Homo sapiens: one gene and its partners. The protein of the gene in region 3 purifies or fractionates together with the protein of the main gene of each other region. This does not show direct contact. Each region holds a gene or a part of one and is shown on either strand. Other genes may lie near its edges. The genes, in order: DNAJC18, ATL2, PTCHD3, ABCD4, VRK2, TMEM231 and ABHD3.

The links.
Region 1: the proteins of PTCHD3 (region 3) and DNAJC18 purify together in Homo sapiens (affinity purification with mass spectrometry; one large-scale study listed by BioGRID and IntAct). This does not show direct contact.
Region 2: the proteins of PTCHD3 (region 3) and ATL2 purify together in Homo sapiens (affinity purification with mass spectrometry; one large-scale study listed by BioGRID and IntAct). This does not show direct contact.
Region 4: the proteins of PTCHD3 (region 3) and ABCD4 purify together in Homo sapiens (affinity purification with mass spectrometry; one large-scale study listed by BioGRID and IntAct). This does not show direct contact.
Region 5: the proteins of PTCHD3 (region 3) and VRK2 purify together in Homo sapiens (affinity purification with mass spectrometry; one large-scale study listed by BioGRID and IntAct). This does not show direct contact.
Region 6: the proteins of PTCHD3 (region 3) and TMEM231 purify together in Homo sapiens (affinity purification with mass spectrometry; one large-scale study listed by BioGRID and IntAct). This does not show direct contact.
Region 7: the proteins of PTCHD3 (region 3) and ABHD3 purify together in Homo sapiens (affinity purification with mass spectrometry; one large-scale study listed by BioGRID and IntAct). This does not show direct contact.

The regions. Positions count from the first base shown.
Region 1 is NC_000005.10:139,409,703-139,412,614, forward strand, and holds the end of DNAJC18 (dnaJ homolog subfamily C member 18), read right to left. Parts: 3' UTR 501-2,912; downstream 1-500.
Region 2 is NC_000002.12:38,367,274-38,370,773, reverse strand, and holds part of ATL2 (atlastin-2), read left to right. Parts: intron 1-3,500. UniProt on the Homo sapiens protein: Atlastin-2 (ATL2) is a membrane-anchored GTPase that mediates the GTP-dependent fusion of endoplasmic reticulum (ER) membranes, maintaining the continuous ER network. It facilitates the formation of three-way junctions where ER tubules intersect.
Region 3 is NC_000010.11:27,400,848-27,404,347, reverse strand, and holds part of PTCHD3 (patched domain-containing protein 3), read left to right. Parts: intron 1-990; coding exon 991-1,136; intron 1,137-3,500. UniProt on the Homo sapiens protein: May play a role in sperm development or sperm function. However, does not appear to have an essential role in spermatogenesis or male fertility.
Region 4 is NC_000014.9:74,289,435-74,292,934, forward strand, and holds part of ABCD4 (lysosomal cobalamin transporter ABCD4), read right to left. Parts: intron 3,436-3,500; coding exon 3,314-3,435; intron 3,209-3,313; coding exon 3,117-3,208; intron 2,943-3,116; coding exon 2,853-2,942; intron 1,066-2,852; coding exon 857-1,065; intron 685-856; coding exon 593-684; intron 86-592; coding exon 49-85; intron 1-48. UniProt on the Homo sapiens protein: Lysosomal membrane protein that transports cobalamin (Vitamin B12) from the lysosomal lumen to the cytosol in an ATP-dependent manner. Targeted by LMBRD1 lysosomal chaperone from the endoplasmic reticulum to the lysosomal membrane.
Region 5 is NC_000002.12:58,088,306-58,091,805, reverse strand, and holds part of VRK2 (serine/threonine-protein kinase VRK2), read right to left. Parts: intron 3,466-3,500; coding exon 3,360-3,465; intron 2,176-3,359; coding exon 2,083-2,175; intron 1-2,082. UniProt on the Homo sapiens protein: Serine/threonine kinase that regulates several signal transduction pathways.
Region 6 is NC_000016.10:75,536,241-75,539,252, forward strand, and holds the end of TMEM231 (transmembrane protein 231), read right to left. Parts: 3' UTR 501-3,012; downstream 1-500. UniProt on the Homo sapiens protein: Transmembrane component of the tectonic-like complex, a complex localized at the transition zone of primary cilia and acting as a barrier that prevents diffusion of transmembrane proteins between the cilia and plasma membranes.
Region 7 is NC_000018.10:21,663,275-21,666,774, reverse strand, and holds part of ABHD3 (phospholipase ABHD3), read left to right. Parts: intron 1-2,544; coding exon 2,545-2,657; exon of another isoform or gene 2,658-3,014; coding exon of another isoform or gene 3,015-3,097; intron 3,098-3,500. UniProt on the Homo sapiens protein: Phospholipase that may play a role in phospholipids remodeling. May selectively cleave myristate (C14)-containing phosphatidylcholines through its predominant phospholipase 1 activity, cleaving preferentially acyl groups in sn1 position.

The DNA of each region.
Region 1 (2,912 bases), on a different chromosome or scaffold from region 3:
GAGTCTTGGTGCTGGGCCTCACCTGTTCCCTGACCCCCATTCCAAAAACCCAGCCCACCTGGCTCAGAGTAAGTTCTCAATCATTGCTGAATTGAATCTCATCTCACTTTCTTTTTCAAATGAAAGCTATCATGACCAGTTAGGATCATGTAAATATCATTTACTATATTTTTAAACCAAAACTTTCCTAAATATGGGCCACTAGGACCAAAGCCAGCAAGGAACTGGGATAACACCTGAATTTCTGATGCTAAGTGTAGTTTTGATCTGTATATTGGCTGTGAGGTACTGCAGCTGCTGTTATCTGATAGAAAATGTGGAACTGATGCCAACAATGCTATCTACTATTCTAAATGCAAATAATCCCACTGACGGGTGAGGGAAGACTGGAGCAGGCGTCAAAAGCTTCTTTAGTCGGAAGTGGCTCCAAGGGAGTCAGGCGATGTGCAGTGGCCAAGGATGCCATGGGCAAAGGTAAAAGAACCAAGGAAAAGTAGCCATTCTTTTAATATAAAATTGTTTAATGTTTTTCTTTGTTGCAGTACACTCAATCCAGATGTAGTGGATGAGGTGGCCAGATTTTTTCAAGATTCTTAGTCCACCAGGAGCTGATTCCATTTGTGTCATCCCTACTCTGGTCACAGAACATTCACATCTTTAATTCCAAATACTGAGCGTGATGTAAATGATGTAATCAGTATCTAACACGAGTATATACTTTCTTGGTGGCCACTGCATGACATATCAACAGTGCAGCCTCAAAAAAAAGATGTTTTGTAACTTGGCCCTTTCCAAAAATAAATATATTAGGACACTAAGCTTATACCTTAAATGAGGGCAGAATAAATATGAATGAAGTGCAAGCTCCTGTGAGGAGCAGTGCATGCAGATGATGTACTTGCTTGTATGGTGTGGCCAGCTGTAACAGAAAGCCACTGGAACGGCACAGTGCCTCCTCACAAAGCCCATCCTGGGTATCATGAGGAAAAAGAATGACACATAGCTTGGCCAGGCTGCTGGAACCCATGTTCCAGTGGCATCTGGAGTTCACTGTATTTTCTTTTTTCTTTCTTTTTTTTTTTTTGAGACAGAGTCTTGCTCTGTCACCCAGGCTGGAGTGCAATGATGTGATCTCAGCTTACTGCAACCTCTGCCTCCCAGGCTCAAGAGATTCTTCTGCCTCAGCCTCCTGAGGAGCTGGGATTACAGACACGTGCTACCATGCCCGCCTAATTTTTGTATTTTTAGTACAGACAGGGTTTCACCATGTTGGCCAGGCTGGTCTGGAACTCCTGACCTCAAATGATCTGCCTGCCTCAGCCTTTCAAAGTGCTGGGATTACAGGCATGAGCTACTGGGCCTGGCCAGTTCACTGTATTTTCGAACAATTTCCAACAGAAAGCACAGCAGTGACGTTTCCTTACTGGTCACTGCTCCCGTGCTGTGAGGCCTGGAGCTGATCAAGGAAGCTTACACATTTCCCGGCCTGAGCAGATGAACTCTAGGGTTGCTAATCTGGGGACGTGGGTTCCTTCAAGCTCTTTGTGATGAGAAGGATTTTCATCCTCCTTTTCTCACTGCCGATCGTGCGGTAGAGAGAGCATCTTCATTTGAATGAGAGCTTCAGTTTCTGCTTGAGCCTCAAGCCCTATTTCTGAGCGCTGCTCCTCTCACACACGTCTCCAATCTGCAGTAATGCTCAAAGAAACAGTCTAGAGCTGGGTGCCAAGCTCCGGCAGCAAGAATAAGCCCTACCTAGTTATGTATGATCAGGAGATCTTCCAAAGGACGTAGGCGAGAGGAAAAAGCTTATTTTACCACCATGCAGACAACCCATCTAAAATATAACCCAGGAAATTATAGCTTCACAATATTCTGGATAGTATCAAATAGATAAATCCTTCAACCAAAAGCAAATACGGTTCCCTTGAGGAAAAACAGATGTGAATGTTGTGGTCTATTGGCAATAAATAAAACAGTACCATCGGTGCTATAAAAACAGACAATCAGCGTGACATTTAATGGAGTTAGTTATTATTGCTTCTATTTAGTATCATCACAGATTACTTATCGCTGCCATGAAGTCCATAAAATGTGTGACTACCTGATTCCTGGGCATCTAGGACAGGGTCTTTTAACCTGTCAAGTCAGTTTCATTATGGCCAATTTTCTAGCAGTGGTTGGGGATGGGGAGAGGAGAGCTTTGATTTTTTTGTGTGTAGAAGAACTTTCCATAAGCCTGTTTGGCTCATGGACATATTTTACAATGTAACCTCCCTCAGTCACTCAGAGGGGATCAAGAAGGGCCCCCTAAAACCAGGAGGACAGATCTAGTTGGGCAGCAAAATCTGGCTATTTCTAGAAATGCTCCCTCTCCCTGCAACTGAGCAGTTGTCCCCTACAAGCCACTAAAGCCCCCAATCTTTACCTGTGAACCCATCTCCTGACTCTGTGGAATGCCTGCAGAGGCATGGTAGGGAACAACCGTTCAGATGTTGATGAGCCATGCTAGGCACGTCTGTGTAAATCATGGCCATGCATTGGGATGAAGAAACTTTACTTTGGAATCTGTTTAATGTAGACTCTTTTTTTTTTTGAGATGGAGTGGAGTGCAGTGGCGTGATTTCAGCTCACTGTAACCTCCACCTTGCAAGTTGCAGCGATTCTCATGCCTCAGCCTCCCGAGTAGCTGGGACTACAGGCATGTGCCACCACACCTGGCTAATTTTTGTATTATTAGTAGAGATGGGGTTTCACTGTGTTGGCCAGGCTGGTCTTGAACTCCTGACCTCAGGTGATCCACCTGCCACAGCCTCCCAAAGTGCTGGGATTACAGGCTTGAGCCAGTGCACCCGGCCGACTCTCTACCAGAAACTTTTCTTCCAATATGAAGGAAGCATGGAGTGTAGGCT
Region 2 (3,500 bases), on a different chromosome or scaffold from region 3:
TTCGTTTTGAGATCGAGTCTTGCTCTGTCACTCAGGCTGGAGTGCAGTGGCACAGTCTTGGCTCACTGCAACCTCCACCTCTGGGTTCAAGAGATTCTTCTGCCCCAGCCTCCCAAGTAGCTGGGACTACAGGCACCCGCTACCACGCCTAATTTTTGTATTTTTTAGTAGAGACGGGTCTTACCACGTTGGTCAGGCTGGTCTCAAACTTCTGACCACAAGTGATCCGCCCGCCTTGGGCTCCCAAAGTGCTGGGATTACAGGCATGAGCCACTGTGCTGGCTGGGTTGATTTTTTTTTTTTTTTTTTTTTTTTTTTTTTTTTTGGGACAGAGTCTCACTCTGTCTCCCAGGCTGGAGCGCAGTGGCGCGATCTTGGCTCACTGTAACCTCCGCCTCCCAGGTTCAAGTGATTCTCTTGCCTTAGCCTCCCGAGCAGCTGAGATTACAGGTGCCCGCCACCGTGCCCGGCTAATTTTTGTATTTTTAGTAGAGACAGACCAGGCTGGTTTCAAACTCCTGACCTCAGGTGATCCACCCACCTCGGCCCCCAAAGTGCTGGGATTACAGGTGTGAGCGACCGCCCGGTCTTGATTTTCTTTCTTTTTTTTTTTTTTTTTTTTTGACGGAGTCTCGCTGTCGCCCAGGTTGGAGTGCAGTGGCGGGATCTCGGCTCACTGCAGGCTCCGCCCCCCGGGGTTCACGCCATTCTTCTGCCTGAGCCTCCCGAGTACCTGGGACTACAGGCGCCCGCCACCTCGCCCGGCTAATTTTTTGTATTTTTTTTAGTAGAGACGGGGTTTCACCGTGTTAGCCAGGATGGTCTCAATCTCCTGACCTCGTGATCCACCTGCCTCGGCTTCCCAAAGTGCTGGGATTACTGGCGTGAGCCACCGCGCCCGGCTTTGATTTTTTTTAATGACAAATCCGAGAGGAGTTTTGACGGGAAAACACCCCTGTTCTTAGAATTTTTTCAAGATGGCTATTAATAGCATCTTCATAAATTGCTGTTTTCTTTTTATCAGCACTTTAATTTTTATTTTTTATTTATGTACTTATTTTTGAGATAGGGTCTCAAATATGCAGCCTCCACCTTCTGGGCTCAAGTGAACCTCCTGCCTTAGTCTCCTGAGTAGCTGGGACTTACAGGTGTGTGCCACCATGCCTGGCTAATTAAAAAAAAAAAATTGGCCGAGCATGGTGGCTCACGACTGTAATCCCAGCACTTTGGGAGGCTAAGGCGGGTGGATGACAAAGTCAGGAGTTCGAGACCAGCCTGACCAACATAGTGAAACCCCGTCTCTACTAAAAAAATTTATTTATTTTTTCTTTGAGACAGAGTCTTACTCTGTCGCCCAGGCTGGAGTGCAGTAGAGCAGTCTCGGCTCACTCTACCTTCTGAGTTCAACTGATTCTCGTGCCTCTGCCTCCCAAGTAGCTGGGATTACAGGCATGTGCCACCACGCCCAGCTAATTTTGTATTTTTAGTAGAGATGGGGGTTTCACTATGTTGGTCAGGCTGGTCTTGAACTCCTGACCTCAGGTGATCCACCCACCTTGGCCTCCCAAAGTGCTGGGATTACAGGTGTGAGGCACTGCACCTGGCCTGACATGTACATTTTCAAGAAAAAGCTAGATCCATTCAGAAAGGTTTTACCCATTTATTCATCAGGGTTAGGTTTGTGCTTGTTTGCAAGTATCTTTGTTCACAGTGGGTGTTAATTAAAAATAAATGCCAACATATAGGTAAAAATGGGCATATTACAGTTTAATTTGCAATTTTTTGATTGTAGTTGATGTTGGAATAGTGATATGGAAATTGAAAATGTGAATTAGTTTATTTACTTTTTTAGAGATGAGGTATCACTATGTTGCCCAGGCTAGTCTCGAACTCCTGGGGTTAAGCGATCCTCCAACCTCCACCTCTCAGTGCTGGGATTACAGGCGTTAGTTACTGTGCCCAGCTCTGACTTCTTTTTATTAATTGCTTTTTAATATTTTTTGAGCATTTCCCAGTATTTCTTTTATTGTTTTGTAAAAGCCTGTTTGCATGCAGGAAATTATTTTTCATATTTGCTTTTTAATTTTGTATTTTTTTGGTGAGAATTGTGTGTGTTGGTTTCTTTCATGTTTTTCTTAAATAAATTGGCAATTTTTTTGAACTTATTAGTGGTAGTCTTAGTCTTTAGGCATGCTATTGGAGTGCTTTTAAAAAGTTGTTATGGCTGGGTGCAGTGGCTCATGCCTGTAATCCCAGCACTTTGGGAGGCCAAGGCGGGCGGATCACCTGAGGTGGGGAGTTCGAGACCAGCCTGACCAACATGGAGAAACCCCGCCTCTACTAAAAATACAAAATTAGCCGGGCGTGGTGGCACATGCCTGTAATCCCAGCTACTAGGGAGGCTGAGGCAGGAGAATCGCTTGAACCTGGGAGGTGGAGGTTGAGGTGAACTGAGATTGCACCATTGCGCTCCAGCCTGGGCAACAAGAGTGAAACTCCGTCTCAAATTAAAAAAAAAAAAAAAAAGTCCTTATTTTAGAGTCCAGGTGCGGTGGCTTACGCCTGTAATGCCAGCACTTTGGGAGGCTGAGGTGGGTGGATCATGAGGTCAGGAGATAGAGGCCATCCTGGCTAACACAGTGAAACCCCATCTCTACTAAAAATACAAAAAATTAGCCGGGCGTGGTGGCAGGCGCCTGTAGTCCCAGCTGTTGGGGAGCCTGAGGCAGGAGAATGGTGTGAACCCGGAAGGTGGAGCTTGCAGTGAGCCGAGATTGCGCCACTGCACTCCAGACTGGGAGAGAGAGCGAGACTCCTCAAAAAAAAAAAAAAGTTGTTTTAGGCCGGGCGTGGTGGTTTACGTTTGTAATCCCAGCACTTTAGGAGGCCAAGGTGGGAGGATCACCTGAGGTCAGAAGTTCGAGACCAGCCCGGACAACATGGTGAAACCCCATCTCTACTAAAAATACAAAAATTAGCTGGGCATGGTGGCAAGCGCCTGTAATCCCAGCTACTCCAGAGGCTGAGGCTGGAGAATCACTTGAACCCTGGAGGCGGAGGTGGCAGTGAGCCGAGATCGCGCCATTGCACTCCAGCCTGGGTGAAAAGAGTGAAACTCCGTCTCAAAAAAAAAAAAAAAGTTGTTTTAAATGGGCGGTTTTTTTTTTTTTTTTTTTTTTGAGATGGATTCTTGCTCTGTTCCCCGGGCTGGAGTGCAGTGGCTCACTGCAAGCTCCGCCTTCCGGGTTCATGGTATTCTCCTGCCTCAGCCTCTGTAGTAACTGGGACTACAGGCGCCCGCCACCATGCCCGGCTAATTTTTTTTTGTATTTTTAATAGAGACGGGGTTTCACCGTGTTAGCCAGGATGTTCTCGATCTCCTGACCTCGTGATCTGCCCGCCTTGGCCTCCCAAAGTGCTGAGATTATAGGCATGAGCCACCGCGCCCGGCCTTAAATTGTTAATCATATATTGATTGTTTATTCGTATCTCTTTTTATT
Region 3 (3,500 bases):
AAAAGTGAAATACAATAACAGTATAGACATTTTATTAAGAAGAAGAATTTTATCTATTTAAATGTGATCTCCCCTGCAGGTCTTCAGTCATGTTCCTGCTGTTTTGAAACCAGTGGCTCCAGTTCTTCAGCTCCTAGACTAAAATTCCAAACTTAGTTTCTCTCCCCTACTAAAATATCTGAATGCAGGTATCAGTCATTTGTTTTGAAGCAATTTCTAACAAGCAAAATCTAAAACCAGAGGTTGTTGCCAATCTTTTAAAAGGTAATGTTATGGTTGCTGAGGAGGTAAAGCACTGAATCATGCTTTAAAATATTTTGTATATAGTCCTGTTTCTGTTGGTTTGCCAAGGAAACAGGCACAGTTTGGGTCATTTAAAATATAGCACATTTTAATTTTTTCCAAATTCGTAGCAACTTTTCCACAGAGCCCACTTCACCAGTAGAGAAGAATCCTGAAAGTAACTTAAAAGACTTTCCTACTTTATGTTAACAACAATACACATTGTACTAACTTTGAAATACAGGAGGCATTTAATGTTGTGTTATGGCTAGTTAGAGACCAGGGATGGATAAAAAGATAATTGGATCTATGTTCTTTCTCTAGTACAGCTTGCTCTTCATTATCTGTTATATTCCATTCACACCCTTCTGAAGATCAGAGTGGAATTAGCCATTAGCAGTGTTTTAGTAATTCTTTGTGGTTCCAAAATGCTAGTCAGTGACTTAGTGCTTGGCTGGCTGCAAAGAATCACATATAGCAGAGTCGGTAGAAGTACAGATTTACAGATTTCTAACTTTTCTGCTCCCTTTCTTTCCTTTTTTTTTTTTCAGTTGTTCTGAGATAGTCCCTGGGAATTAAAGGTCTCCAGCAGATATGTGTGGAAATTACTGTCTTAGAGATTTATGACTAGGTGTCCAAGTCAAGAATGTTATCCATTGATGAAAGCTACCACCACAAATTCCATGATTTTTCCCTCCAAATTTACAGGTTTGACTGCATACGAAACAAAATGTGTGTTGCGGCCTTTGGAGTGATTTCTGCTTTCTTGGCAGTGGTGAGCGGCTTTGGCCTGCTGTTGCACATTGGGGTGCCATTTGTCATCATAGTTGCCAATTCACCATTTCTTATTCTAGGTGAGTAAAACAAAACGGGAGGCTGCACACCGTGTATGTGGTGGGGTAGGGGATATATATAAGGGAAAGAATTGTATTAAGGTGGCTCTACAGTTCAAAAATGAGGTGCCAGGAAACAGGGAAATGAAATTGAACTGGATATCTCTAGAGGTGGAAAGATCGAGTATCCTAATGGAAAAACAGACCATGTACGTGAACAGCAGTTCACATGTAAAAAACAAAATACGCGTCATTAAAAATACAGTCATGTATCACTTAACATTGAGGGTCTGAGAGATGCATCCACAGGCAATTTTAACATCGTGTAAACTTCCTAGAGTGTACTTACACAAACCTAGATTATATTTCCTACAACGCACCTAGGCTATGTGGGCCTCTTGCTCCTAGGCTACAATCCTGTACAGCATGTTACTACGCTGAAAACTATAGGTAACTGTCACACAATGGTAAGTATTTGTATATCTAAATATATCTAAACATAGAAAAGGTACAGTAAAAATATGGTAGAAAATATGAAAAATGGTCCACCTGTATAGGGCACTTATCACGAATGGAGCTTGCAAGACTGGAAGTTGCTTTGGGTGTCAGTGAATGAATGTTGAGTGAACATAAGGTATAGGACATTCCTGTACACTACTGCAGACTTTATAAACACTGGACACTTAAGCTATGCTACATTTATTTAAAAATGTATTTTTCTTTCTTCAATAATAAATTAACCTTAGCTTACTATAATTTCATTATTTTATAAACTTTAAAGTTTCTTTTAAACTTTTTTACTTTTTGTGATAACACAGCTTAAAACACAAACACAATGGACAGCTGTACAATAGTATTTTCTTTCCTTATGTCCTGGTGTAAACAAACGTGTTGCTCTGCCAGTCTTATGAAAGTATAGCACATACAATTATGTACACAACATAATAATAAACAATTGTTACTGCTTTATGTATTCACTATGCTAAATTTTATGTCATTATTTTAGAGTGTACTCTAACTTATGAAAAAAATAGTTAACTGTAAAATAGCTTCATGTAGGTTATTCAGAAAATATTTCAGAAGAAGGCATTGTTATCATAGGAGACAATTCCACGTGTCCTGAAGACCTTCCAGTGGGACAGGATGTGGAGATGGAAGACAGTGATAGCGATGATTCTGACCCTATGTAGGCCTAGACTAATGTGTGTGGTTTTTGGTTTGTTTGTTTGTTTTTTGAGACGGAGTCTCACTCTGTCACCCAGGCTGAAGTGCAGTGGCTCAATCTCAGCTCACTGCAACCTCCGCCTCCCGGGTTCAAGCTGTTCTCCTGCCTCAGCCTCCCGAGTAGCTGGGACTACAGGCATGCACTACTATGCTCATATGTGTTTTTGTATCTTAGTTTTTAATAAAAAGTTTAGAAAGTAAAAAAATAAAATAAAAATAAAGATTTTTTATTTTATTTATTTATTTATTTATTTATTTATTTTTTTGAGACAGAGTCTCGCTCTGTCGCCCAGGCTGGAGTGCAGTGGCGTGATCTTGGCTCACTGCAAGCTCCACCTCCCGGGTTCACGCCGTTCTCCTCCCTCAGCCTCCCGAGTAGCTGGGACTACAGGCGTCCGTCACCACGCCTGGCTAATTTCTTTTTGTATTTTTAGTAGAGACAAGGTTTCACCATATTAGCCAGGATTGTCTCGATCTCCTGACCTCGTGATCCGCCCACCTTGGCCTCCCAAAGTGCTGGGATTACAGGCGTGAGCCACCGTGCCCAGCCATAAATAAAGATTTTTAAAAATAGAAAAAGGCTTATAGATTAAAGATATAAGTAAAGAAAATATTTTGTACAGCTGTCCAATGTTTTTGTATTTTAAGCTGTGTTATCATAAAAAGCCAAAAACTTTTTTAAAAACTTAAAAGTTTATAAAATAATAAAGTTACAGTAAGCTAAGGTTAATTTATTATTGAAGAAAAATATATTTTAAAATAATTTTAAATTTTAAATTTAATAATTTAATTTTAAAATTTAAATTTTAAATTTTAAAAATAACCTAAGTATCTGGTGTTTATAAAGTCTACAGTTATATACAGGAATGTCCTAGGCCTCCCTGCAAACTCTACAAAATGGCTTACATTAAATCAATTATATATATCTTAACTATAGTTATTTATGGCTGTGGGGTACACTGGATGATTAGGTGTGAGTGCATACGAGGAAGGTATGCCTTGAAAAGCTAGAATAAATAAGCTAATATCCAGTACACAACTCACTATCTCCCCCAGAAAACCAAATATTAGTTTTTCCAAGATGCTTACTTTCCAAAATATAAACACCTTTATTTTCTAATGCTTACTAAAATAAATTCTGAGCTTACCAAAAATACAAAG
Region 4 (3,500 bases), on a different chromosome or scaffold from region 3:
ACAACCATGACAGAAGGAGAGGACATGACCTAAGGAGGACCAGCTCACCTGAGTCGGGGTAGACCTCCTTCAGGGGATATATCACCTGAGAAAAGAAAAAAACCACACCAACCTAGGAGGGCGAGCAAAAGACGGAGCTGCACACAGCCCACCCTCCCTCCAGAACCCACTGGAACCTCCCAAGGAGGAGAGGTGGGAACGCCTGGCCTGGGTCAGATGGGAGAGGCTCTGGCCGGCAGACAGCAGGGCAAGGTCCCTACAACCTTCAGAAGTGTGTTTAGGGGGAACAGTCTGACAGCCTCCTGAGGGCAGGGGCCCCAGAATCCGACCTTGGGTGTTTGACATACGCGTGTGGTATTTGGCGTGAGTCCTTGCCCCATTTACCTGCCTCAGGAGCTGCTATGAGTAGTGGGCCCAATCCATGGATGTGAATAGAAGGTTCTTAGAGCCAGCAGTTCCCAGGCCCGGGCCACTTCACCACCTCACCTTTTGCCCTGACTCTAGGACCTGAGACTTGTCACAGTGCCAGAGGTCCCAGCTGTGGGTGGGCGGGGTTGAGGAGGGAGGAGTGAGCCCCCTGAACTAGACTGACCTGCTCCCGAAGGGTCCCGTCAGTGAAGAATGGCTTTTGTGGCAGGAATAGCACCCCATGGGGCCCAAAGTCCGTCAGCATCTGCACTGAGCCTGCAGAGCCCACAGAAACCTCCATTGTGAGATCTCCCAGAAGAGGCAACTGCCTGTCTCCTCTCTTCCTTGTTCCCCAACAGAAAAGAATGGATTCTACCACACCGTCCCCGCCTTCACCCCACCCCTAGGGCCCAGGCTGGGTCAGAGGCAGGGAGGGCCTGGCTCTCACCCCGTGTACTCGTCCAGAGGCCACCCAGAACCCGGAGCAAGGAGGTCTTGCCAGTGCCCGTGTTGCCTGTGATGAGCAGGCTCTGTCCCTCGGAGATCTTTAGGCTCAGATCCTTGATTAGGGGTTTGTCAGAGGAGGGGGCAGAGATGGAGACCCGCTCAAGGAGAAATGCTGTGTCTGCTGGCTCTGCCGCTGGCCACCCTGGGGGTCTGTGTCAGAGAAGAGAGGGGGCGTGAGGAAGATGGGCAGGGTCAGTATTGCTGTGGGGGAGGCACTGCTCCCGGGAGCCACCACCTGTGGATTATTATGGGCTGACTTGCATCCTCCCAAAATCACATGCTGAAGTCCAGCCCCCTAGTGACTCAGAATGTAACTGCATTCGGAGGCAGGGTCTTTTTTTTTTTTTTTTTTTTTGAGAGAAAGTCTTGCTGTCACCCAGGCTTGAGTGCAGTGGAGCTATCTCAGCTCACTGCAACCTCCGCCTCCTGGGTTCAAGCGATTTTCCTGTCCCAGCCTCCTGAGTAGCTGGATTACAGGTGCCCACCACCGTGCCCATATTTTTAGTAGAGACAGGGTTTCACTATGTTGGCCAGTCTGGTCTCGAACTTGTGACCTCAGGTGATCTGCCCACCTCAGCCTCCCAAAGTGGTGGGATTATAGACGTGAGCTTCCGTGCCCAGCTGGAGGCAGGGTCTTTAAAGAGATGATGTTAACATGAAGTTGTTGGGGTGGGACCCTAATCCAATATGACTGGTGTCCTCTTAAGATAGAGGTGGCAGGGGCACGCACATATAAAGGAAAGGCCACGTGAGGACACAGCAACAAGGTGGCCATCTACAAGCCAAGGAGTGGCCTAAGAAACCAACCCTGCTGACAACTTGATCGTGGACCATAAGCATCCAGAATTGTGAGGAAATTAATTTCTATTGTTTAAGCCAGCCGGTTTGTGGTTTTCTGTCATGGCAGCCTGAGCACATTAATACAGGGGTAGGGGTGGAACTTCTACTCTCTGCCTGGCTGGACAAAGCCCCTTATGGGACTGATCTTACTCAGTCTAATGCCCATGAGTCTCAAATATCATCACAGATGAGGACACTAAGAATCAGGTGGCTAAGTAACTGCCCAGGTTGCAGAGCGGTATTCAACAAATTCTAATGCTGGTGGGTCTTCATGGCATCACAGTGTGACCAGAGTACTAATAACAAGAATGGGAGTGGTTAAAGCTAAATGGTTCTGGAGTTTCTGCCTCTGCATGGATGCCTGGCTCCCCACAGAACAGCAATTCCAGTTTCCTACAGACCCTCCTTCATGCCCAGCCTCTGCACTCATGGTTGCATGAAGCTTTCATTTGGAACAGAAGCAACAGTTAAGGTATTAGCTCCTAAGAAAAGCAAGTTGAGTGTAGGCCCTGGAATTCAGACTGATTTTTGAAAGCTTATGATGTGGCCACTGTCCAAGCACTTTCCATGGATGATGATATCTAATCCCTACAACAAGTGAAGGAAGTTCATTATGACCTCCTTTTCAGACATGAAGAAACAGAACAGTTAGGTAATCTGCCCAAGGAAAGTGTGGAGATCAAGCAAATCCTGAATGCACAGAAATATTACAGATCCACGCAGACACACGGATACAGACATCTCTGGGGCTGAGTGAGGTGGGGGAACAAAGACAGACATGCCCCAAGGAAAGGGGCAGGGAGAGGAATCAGCGGGAGGAGGAAGCACAGGAAGGGGAGGACACTGCAGATTCCTGTTATCTCAGGCAGAAGGTGTGTGTACTTTGCTTCCACTGGCCGGGGAATGGTGTAAATTAACACAACAGATGCCGGAACAGCAACATCGACTGTGAACTTACATGTGCCTGGCATTCCATTTCCATTTACTCCTTACAACTCTGCTGCCCAGCTGGGAAAGGGCAGGACTCCAGGGTAACCCAAGCCAGGTGATGCCACAGCCTGCAGCCTCAACTACTGCTCTGCCAGCCCGCTACTCACGTGTCCAAGCCCCACTCGCTCTCGCCCAGGATCTCGCAGTCCTGTGACTTCAGGGACATGTCCAGAAGCGTCTCCCGAAGCTGCCCAATTCTGAACAAGAAAAGAAAATCTGAGGCAGGGTCTGGGAGCCAGGTGAAGGTGAACTCCTTTTCCTATCTCACACCCACGAGTACATGGTATGTCTCTGTTCCTTTTTTCACTCAGCCACTTCTGCCAGCAGCACACACTTTGCTCAGGAGCCAGAGGGGTGGGACACGGCCTCACCTGTGCGTGTAGCCAGCCACATCTGAGAGCGTCGTGGACAGGTCGATGAGCTGGGTGAAGCAGCTGATGAGGTAGATGCACACAAAGGCATTCTGGACAGGATGGGAAGAGGTCAAGCAGGTCTCGACTCGAGCCCACAGACACTGGGCCAAGGACAGAGAGGGACAGCATGTGGGGTGACCAAGAGGGAGTCTCACCTTGCTGACCAGGGTGCTAAGCTCTGCGGGACTCAGGTCTCCATAGACCCCGCTGAAAATGGGGATTGCGATGACAACGTAACTCAGGATGCTGCCCAGATAGTCAAAGGTGTTGATGCCGACTGTAGAAAACACATCTGTGAGACACCCAGGAACCATCCACATGCCCTACAGCGGACACAACCCT
Region 5 (3,500 bases), on a different chromosome or scaffold from region 3:
AGCCTTTTTTCCTGTTTCTAGGACAGTCATATTCCTTCTCTGTTCTGTTTATTCATTCTTTTCGATCATCGCTTTAACAAGGTATTTAGTGTTTTTCTTAATTTTTTTTTTAGTACCGGCTAGATATTCTCAAATATTTGTTATCTATCTATTTCCCAGTTTCTCATTCACCTTTCATTTTGAAAAAATTTTTATTAAGAAATTTAACCAATGCAGAGATCAAATATTCAATTACATTTTTTCTAATTTTTTATAGACTCAATCATTTAACTCTTTAAACGTGATAATACAGTAACAACTAGGTATATTGTTATTTAAGTTTAAATTAAGTTAAATTAAAAATTCAGTTTGTCAATATTAATATTTTAATATTAAAAATATAATCTACATTTTTTAAACAGACTATATTTTTTAGAGAAGTTTTAGGTTTGATTTAGGTAAATTTAGAGCAATGTAGGTAAAACTGAGTGGAAAATACAGTGAGTTCCCATATACCTCAAGCCCACACAAAGTCTCTCCGCTATCAACATCCCTCACTAGAGTAGCACATTTTTTATAGTGAATGAACCAAGAATGACAATCCTTATCATCCAAAAGCCACAGTTTACATTATGTTCACTCTTGGTCTTGTCCATTCTATGGATCTTAACAACCAAATGATGACATGTATTCACCATTATGGTATCATGCAGAATAGTTTCACTGACCTAAAAATCCACTGTGCTTCACTCATTCATCCTTCCTCTCCCTTCTAACCTATGGAGATAGTAAAAAATTGATCTTTTTACTGTCTCTATAGTTTTGCCTTTTCCAGAATGTCATATAGTTGAAATTGTATAGTAACTAGCCTTTTCAGATTGGCTTCTTTTACATAGTAAAATACATTTAGGTTTCTTCCATGTTTTTTCATGGCTGAAAAGTTCATTTCTATTTAGCAATGAATAATATTCCATTATCTGGATGTATCAGTTTATCCATTCACCTACTCAAAGACATCTTGGTTACTTCAATGTTTTGACGAGTATGAATAAACCGACTACAAGCATTCACGTGCAGGTTTTTGTGTGGATGTAAGTTTTCAACTCATTTGGGTAAATACTAATGAGCACAACTGCTGCTTGGTATGTTAAGAGTGTCTAGCTTTCTAAGTAACTGCCCAACTGTCTTCCAAAGTGGCTGTATCATTTTGCATTTCCATTAGCAACAAATTTCCATGAGCAACAAATGAGAGTTCCTGTTACTCCAAATACTCATCAGCAGTTGGTACTGTACTGACCACGTTTTAAGTACTTAGCCACATACTGCTAATGGCTACCATATTGGACAGTCAAACAGAATATTTTCATCATTACACAAAATTTTAATGGAAAAGCTTGCTTAAAACTTTTTTTTTTTTTTTTTTTTTGAGATGGAGTTTCTCTCTTGTTGCCCAGGCTGGATGGAGTGCAATGGCACCATCTCAGCTCACTGCAACATCCGCCTCCTGGGTTCAAGCAATTCTCCTGCCTCAGCCTCCTGAGTAGCTGGGATTACAGGCACCCACCACCACACCCAGCTAATTTTTGTATTTTTAGTAGAGACAGGGTTTCACCATGTTGGCCAGGCTGGTCTCAAACTCCTGTCCTCAGGTGATCCACTCACCTCGGCCTCTCAAAGTGCTGGGATTACAGGCATGAGCCACCGCGCCCGGCCTCTCTGCTTAAAACTTAATTGGTTATACAGTAGGAAATGATGAACTAATATGACAGTGTTTTAACCTCTACATAAATCCATCTCTACTCCCACTGGATTTTGATGGTTCTTTGCTTATCTATATTTGCTCAGAAATTCAAATTCCTGCTCAGCCACTTCTTAACTGTGTGCCCATTAACATATTATTTAACCCCTCTGACTCTCAGTTTCTCATCCTAATTACTCATTAGTTTGGTACAAAGATTAAATTAGATAAGCAGGTAAGATAAATTACAACATTCATCATGTTACGCCCTCATTTGTAAACTCTTCTGGGTTAGAAGTTTGTTTTCTGAATGTTTCAGTTTCATACATTAAAGACCTTTATTAAAAGCAAAAGTATGTATTTACCTGGTCTGGATTTTTGTAACCCAAAAGTAGATTTGCTGCTTTTATATCACCATGAACATATTCATTTTCATGTATATATTCCAGTACATCCAACTGTGAAAATAAATAGATAAAATAAGGTTTACTGCTATTTAGAACTCATGATCAATTTCAACATTTTGAATATAGAATAACATGGGTTTTTTCATATTAACATTGACAAAGCGATGTATTTCACAATTACTGGTTAATTATTCTAAAATATCACATCTTCTGGTTGCTCATCCTAGAAAAAAGTAAAATGATCCTCAAAAATCAAGTATTTTAGTTGAAGTTCCAAAGGAAGAAAATCAAGATTCAAAAATGCTTATGCCTAATTCCTGATAGCCCAGTAGCCAAACCGCACTGCACAAAGAGGAAAAACATAGCATAAAATCAGAGATCTATGGTGAAATAATCTTGAAGCCCACTCAGCAATTCCTCACCTAAGCAATAATTATAAATCAAGCCTTGAGAATCTCAGAACAAAATGCCATGTCCATGAGCAAAGGGAAAGGTATTCTTCCTCTGTATGGTAATAGAAAACTCCTTAGCTTCATCTCTAAAGCCCTTCAGCCTTGCATGTTACATACACTTAGTACTCAATAAACATTTGCTGGCTTCGAGGATGGATAAATGAGAAAATTAATGCATTCTATTTGCTGCATTCCAATCTGGCATAAGCAGCTTCATGCTACTCAAAAGTGAAAAAATGAGACTTAAACAAACCAAATACAAACATATAAGACAAATATGTAGTATAAACAAATGTGTGCCTGAGTGCTATTAAGAGTTCGTTGCTTCTGCTTTGGCAAAGTATATTTTATTCATTGTCACAACTAATTATTGCCACCATCCCAAACTCATAATAAAAACTTCATAGCACCCCCCTACCATCACATGTTTAAAATGTCTGACAATATATTTTGCCATAATTTGCATTGTTATAACTGACAAAAGAAAGGTTATTCTTACAGCAATGAAAGCTTGTTCTGGTATGTAAAACAAAGCTCTAAGGAAAAAGAAGATCAGACTGGAGAACCAAAGCCTAATTGAGTTTGCAGTGCCATACACAGCACATTCTGTCACTTACAGAGCCCATTGTTATCAATTTCACCAAAATAGCCTCTACTCCTAATAACTGATGTCTCTAGGGCAATAATCCTTCATTCTCTAATAATTCCACAAAGGGAAAAGATTTCTATATTGCAAGAAGTAAACAATTTGGAAATGGAGCATGCGAAATAAGTAATTCTTACCATTCGGATACCTAATTGCAGGACAGTTGACTTTTTAAAGGTACCATTCTGGCCTGAGATCTTCTGTAAATCTATTCCTAGTCTTTCCATTACCATAAATCTGTAACTGTAAGAAAAAAGCATCAAAAAGAGATCATCCTG
Region 6 (3,012 bases), on a different chromosome or scaffold from region 3:
GCTCAGCCTGGCCTGGTGGCATATGACTGTAATCCCGGCACTTTGGGAGGCAAGGCAGGCAGATCACTTGAGGTCAGGAGTTCAAGACCAGCCTGGTCAACGTGGCAAAACCCCATCTCTACTGAAAATACAAAATTTAGCCGCGCATGGTAGCACATGCCTGTAATCCCAGCTACTAGGTAGGCTGAGACAGGAGAATAGCTTGAACCCCGGAGGTGGAGGCTGCAGTGAGCGGAGATGGGGCCATTGCACTCCAGACTGGGTGACAAAGCGAGACTCCATCTCAAAAACAAAGAAACAAACGGGCAGAGTCCAGTAATCTGAAAAGGATAGAGCATTGGGAGGTCCTTTAATCCATGGTGGTATCTGAAACGAGGAGTCCCTGCTGCTGGGAGTAGAAATTAGCAGTCTTTCCTGGCTGTGGTTTGGCAATGAATTAAGATCCTTAACAATGGTCATAAGTTTTCTGAATGTATCTTAAGGAAATAAACCAGCAACAATGATTTCTACACAAGGTTTATAAAAGTGTTGTTTGTGATACTAAAAAGGTTACATACAACAAAAAAGATTAGAAAGATGTGTGCCAGAATGCCAACCATAATAACTTCTGTGATCAAACTGCTGTGATCCCAGCACTTTGGGTGGCCAAAGCGGATGGATCACTTGAGGTCAGGAGTTCGAGACCAGCCTGACCACCAGGGTGAAGCCCTGTCTCTACTAAAAACACAAAAATTAGCCGGGCATGGTGGTGGGCACCCGTAATCCCAGCTACTCGGGAGGGTAAGGCAGGAGAATCACTTGAACCTGGGAGGTAGAGGCTGCAATGAGCTGAGATCATGCTGCTGCACTCCAGCCTGGGTAACAGAGTGAGACTCTGTCTCAAAAAAAAAAAAAAAAAAGAAAAAGAAAAAGAAAAGAAAAACCACCTACTGGGTACTATGCTTATTACGTGGGTGATGAAATAATCTGTACACCAAACCCCCAGGTTGTACAATTTAGCTATATACGAAACCCATACATATACCCCATGAGTCTACAATAAAAGTTGGAAGGAAAAAAAAAAAAGAAATAATTGCTTTATTAGCCTTACATGATGGAATATTAGGGGGGCCTCATCTGACTTAAGCCGAAACTGTACTAATCATTTGGCAAAATCAGGAGTCTTTCTGCCTCCAAATATTCAGTAATAACATCAAACCTTAACTTAGCTATGGGTCGGAGCTGAGTTAATAAAATCCTCTATATTTCTTTTTTTTTTTTTTTTTGAGACGGAGTCTAGCTCTGTTGCCAGGCTGGAGTGCAGTGGCGCAATCTCGGCTCACTGCAACCTCCGCCTCCAGGGTTCAAGCGATTCTCCTGCCTCAGCCTACTAAATAGTTGGGATGACAGGCACGTGTCGCCACACCCAGCCAATTTTTGTATTTTTAGTGGAGATGGGGTTTCACCATGTTGGCCAGGATGGTCTCGATCTCCTGACCTTGTGATTCACCCACCTCGGCCTCCCAAAGTGCTGGGATTACAGGCGTGAGCCACCGCTCCCGGCCTCTTGCTTTTTATTTACCTCTTGCAGCTATGCTGTGATTCAGAGTCAGAAACTATCAACATCTGGTCTGTAAATAATTTCATATTCACCAGACACAGTCATAATTATCCAACACGTAGATTTCACATGGCATGTGAATCCCACTGAAAACTCATCTACCTGGGGAAGAACTAGGGGACTTTCACCAAAGACCTCATGGAAGTTCCAAGGTCGTTAGGCAGAGCCTTGTAAAGCATGGCTGTAGATGAGTAATAAAGACAGGTGTGTGCAACCTCTGCCCTCCCTATTCTTTGCCATTCCAAACCCTTTCCCTCGAAAAAGGTACATGTGATCTTCCATTTTGACTTTTTTATTTATTTATTTATTTATTTTAACAGATAGGGTCTCACTCTGTCACCCAGGCTACAGTACAGTGGTGCAATCATAGCACACTGCAGCCTCAAGCTCCTGGGCTCAAGTGATCCTCCCACCTTGGCCTCCCAAAGTGTTGAGATTACAGGAATGAACCACCATGCTCGGCCTCATTTTGAACATTTTAATTAGAAAGTTACAAAACATCATGGGTTCTTTATACAAGATTTGCATTAGAATAATTTAATAAAATGCAAACCAATGTTTATACGTATCTTGTCATCTTTCCATATCTCATTGCCTTATGTGAATTTAAACAAGAAACTATTTTTCGTTTAGATCTTAAGAAAAAAATTTAGGCATATAAAACAGCCTGAATATTAAAAAAAGACAAGGGGGTCAGTGTTAGGGAATTCCTCTGCTTGAATACTTCAAAATAGCTTTGTTTCCAAAACTGTTTTAGTAAGCCTAAAGGAGCACTAAAAACGACAACTGATCTCCAAAGTAAACTGAGGCACACACTGAGGGGTGTGTTTCTGGGTGGGCATGAAGCATGGATCACCGGGGCCATGTCCTTCCAGTGGCAATGACCTGCTTGGGATCAGGAAGCAGCTCCATGTGTTCTTGGAGGAGACTGCCCACATCCTCAGGAGGTGAATGGGCTGAACAAGCCATCTTCCGTGTGCAGAGGCCCCTTCCAGCCATCTCTGCTCCTGCAGACACTTGCTTAGCCACGAGGGTAATCCACTGGACTGCTTGGTATTCTGCTAGTGGCCAGGCTGGACTGGCCTGCCCAGGCCAGCATCCTCTTTACACTCTTACTGCTTCTTGTGTCCTTCCCAAAGCTGCCCGCCCCACTCTGATGGGCACCCTGTTCCTTAGTCAAGGGAAACGCCAGCCGCTGGGCTTCCCGCTAGCCTTCCAAATAAACTTGTGGTTGTCAGGCAGCGGGAGCCAATCCCAACACCAACCCCTGTCGCCCCTGTCCTTTGCAGGAAGGGGGAGGGCTGTCAAGGAGGAGGAGGGCCAAGTGCCCAGGCTGTTGGGTGAGGGCCAGAAAGAACCTGTTGTGACAATGCTTTCTTCCCCCAGTGCTGCTGAGGGGGCTGAGAATGAAA
Region 7 (3,500 bases), on a different chromosome or scaffold from region 3:
GACATTCACATGAAAACCATGTGTTTAAATGTGTTATATATTGAAGCATGGTCAACTTTACATATTTTAATATTTTAAGTGTCTACTGCAGTGTAGTACAGCTGAGGCTATCTGTATATACATACTATTAGAAAAGAAAATGTTTGGCCAGGCACAGTGGCTCACGCCTGTAATCCCAGCACTGTGGGAAACCAGGGCGGGTAGATCATTTGAGGTCAGGAGTCCCAGACCAGCCTGGCCAACATGGTGAAATCCTGTCTCTACTAAAAATTCAAAAAAAATAGGCCGGGCACGGTGGCTCACACCTGTAATCCTAGCACTTTGGGAGGCCAAGGCGGGCAGATCATGAGGTCAGGAGTTAGAGACCAGCCTGGCCAACATGGTGAAACCCCATCTCTACTAAAAATACAAAAATTAGCCAGGCGTGGTGGTACGTACCTGTAGTCCCAGCTACTCAGGAGACTGAGGCAGGAGAATCGCTTGAACCCGCGAGGCAGAGGTTGCAGTGAGCCAAGATCGCGCCACAGCACTCCATCCTGGCAACAGAGCGAGACTGTGTCTCAAAAATAAAATAAAATAAAGATTAGCTGGTGCACACCTGCAGTCCCAGCTACTCAGGAAGCTAAGGCAGGAGAATTGCTTGAACCCAGGAGGCAGAGGGGTACTAGTGAGCTGAGATTGTGCCACTGCACCCCAGCCTGGGCGACAGAGCAAGAATCCATCTCAAAAAAAATAAATAAAATAAAAATAAATTTAAAAATAAAAGAAAATATTCAGTTAATAAATTAGACCGTAGATTGCTTTATCTAGAGTGAAGACAGCACTAGGAAACCATACTCTTTCATTGGCAGACAGCACTCAAGGTGGAGAAAACAGTTCCCCAGTTAGAAATGAGCTACAATTTAAAATTTTGGGGATTTGGGGTACACTATTGAAAAGCCCCTTTTGCTTTTTTTTTTTTTTGAGATGGAGTCTCACTCTGTCACCCAGACTGGAGTGCAGTGGCGTGATCTCAGCTCACTGCAAGCTCCACCTCCCGGGTTCACGCCATTCTCCTGCCTCAGCCTCCTGAGTAGCTGGGACTACAGCGCCCACCACCACACCTGGCTAATTTTTTGTATTTTTAGTAGAGACAGGGTTTCGCTGTTTTAGCCAGGATCTCCATCTCCTGAGCTCATGATCCACCTGCCTTGGCCTCCCAAAGTGCTGGGATTACAGGTGTGAGCCACTGCGCCTGGCTGCTTGTTTGTTTTTTAATAAATAATGATTTTACTTGGGAGGCCAAGATGGGAGGATTACTTAAACTCAGGAATTTGAGACCAGCCTGGGCAGCATAGCAAGATCCTGTCTCTACAAAAAAATAAAAAATTTGCCAGGCATGGTGGTGCATGCCTATAGTCCCAGCTACTCAGGAGGCTGAAGCAGGAGGAGCACTTGAACAAGGAAGTCGAGGCTACAGTGAGCTGTGATCATACCATTGCACTCCAGCCTAGAAACAGAGCAGGACCATGTCTCAAAAAAATTTTTTTTGGCCAGACGTGGTGGCTCATACCTGTAATCCCAGCACTTTGTGAGGCTGAGGCAGGCGGATCACTTGAGGTCAGGGGTTCAAGATCAGCCTGGTCCACATGGTGAAACCCCATCTCTACTAAAAATGCAAAAATTAGCCGGGCATGGTGGTGGGTGTCTGTAATCCCAGCTACTCAGGGGAGTGAGGCAGGAAAATCATTTGAACCTGGGAGGCAGAGGTTGCAGTGAGCCGAGATCACATCACTGCACTCCAGCCTGGGCAACAGAGCAAAACTCCATCTCAAAAATAATAATATTTTTAAAGTTACTTTGGGCCAGGCACAGGCTCACACCTATAATCCCAACACGTTGGGGGGCCAAAGCAGGTGAATCACTGTAACCCAGGAGTTCAAGACCAACCTGGACAACATAGCAAGACCCCCCTGTCTCTACAAAACATTTTTTTAAAAATCTGTTTGTGGTGGCCTATACCTGTGGTTCCAGCTACTTGGGAGTTTAAGGTCAGAGGATTGCTTGAGCCTGGGAGGTCGAGGCTGCAGTGAGCTGTGATCATGCCACTGCAATCTAGCCTGAGTGACAGTGCAAGACTCTGTCTTTCCAAAACAAACAAAAAAAAAGGTTATTTTGTCTTTGAGGGTACAGGTTGTTTTTTGTTTAATAGAAAGCACAGTTCTCTGCTTTTTTTCCTAAACTGCTCTGGTTAAGTTGGAGACACGTTTGAGTATGGTACTTTGTTTAATTGAAGGTATTTGTATTGGTCTTGCCCCATCTGCATCAAGCCTTCCTTGCATGTTCATGGTCTTTTTGTTAGTGCCAACTCTAACTGTGCTGACTTTAAATGGCATGTATGTGCGCTGCAAGACAGGAAAATGATAAATTATTAATACTACAGTATGTGCAAACAAAGGTTATTTTCTCATATGTATGACTCCTTGCTCCTGTTTACATTTCTGCATTTTACAAATCATTAACCTCACATTGTAATTTTTGTGCTTTACTTGTCACTACTTCCAGACGCCAAGGACTTATTGTTGTGCTAACACTGAAGACTTGGAGACAGTTATTCACCATGTACACAGCCTGTACCCTTCTGCTCCTTTCCTGGCAGCAGGGGTTTCAATGGGAGGGTAAGGTTTTCCCTTTCTAAAATAATCTCTGAGAGGGAAGCTATTTTATTGGCTGTCTCTTTGAGAGGACTATAAGCTAGCTGTATGGACACTTTTTAAATAAATGTCTGATTATGTTTATCATATTTTATTAAATGCGGTTGATTGAATGAACGAAGGAAGGAAAGAATTAATTCAGGTGAATTTTAATATTTTTCTTAACTACGGGTCTCTGTGACTGCGGATTTTGTGAGCCTGAAGGTTTGTCTGAAGCCCATGAAGTCGATTGCATCACTCACCGGCTGCCATGTTGACCTTCTGATTCCTGACGCACTCCCAGCCATCCCTGGAGCTGCGTTCTGAAGCTGAACTTGTAGCATGACTTTCATCACTCCAGTTACAGAAATAATCACTTATTGCTCTCTCCAGCTGCAGTGGCCTTCAAAATTATTTTTCCCCAGGTGGTATTTTGTTTTGTTTTGTTTTGTTGCTGGGCAAATGGAACTACTGTGGAGTGCTCTCCTAGAAACTGAAATTTTGTTAACCCCCTACTCCAGCTGTTATTTTAAGCATACGGATATTGTCATTTGTGCTGCTTGCAATTACTTTGGGGCTTATTTGGAACTTTCCTATTTAGGCTTATTTCTACTAATTGTTTTTGGGGTTTTTTTTTTTGGTTGTTCTAGTGATGGTGAGCTTAAGGAAATCCAAAATTTTTATTATCGGGAATTTTACTAAGCTTTTAGATTCCTGAAGCCATTGTCCAAAACTAGTTTTTTAAATCAGCAAATACTGAAGATAGAAAATGATATTTTTTCATAATTTTATAATTGGTTTATCTGTCATTTCAGTTTTTAGAACATC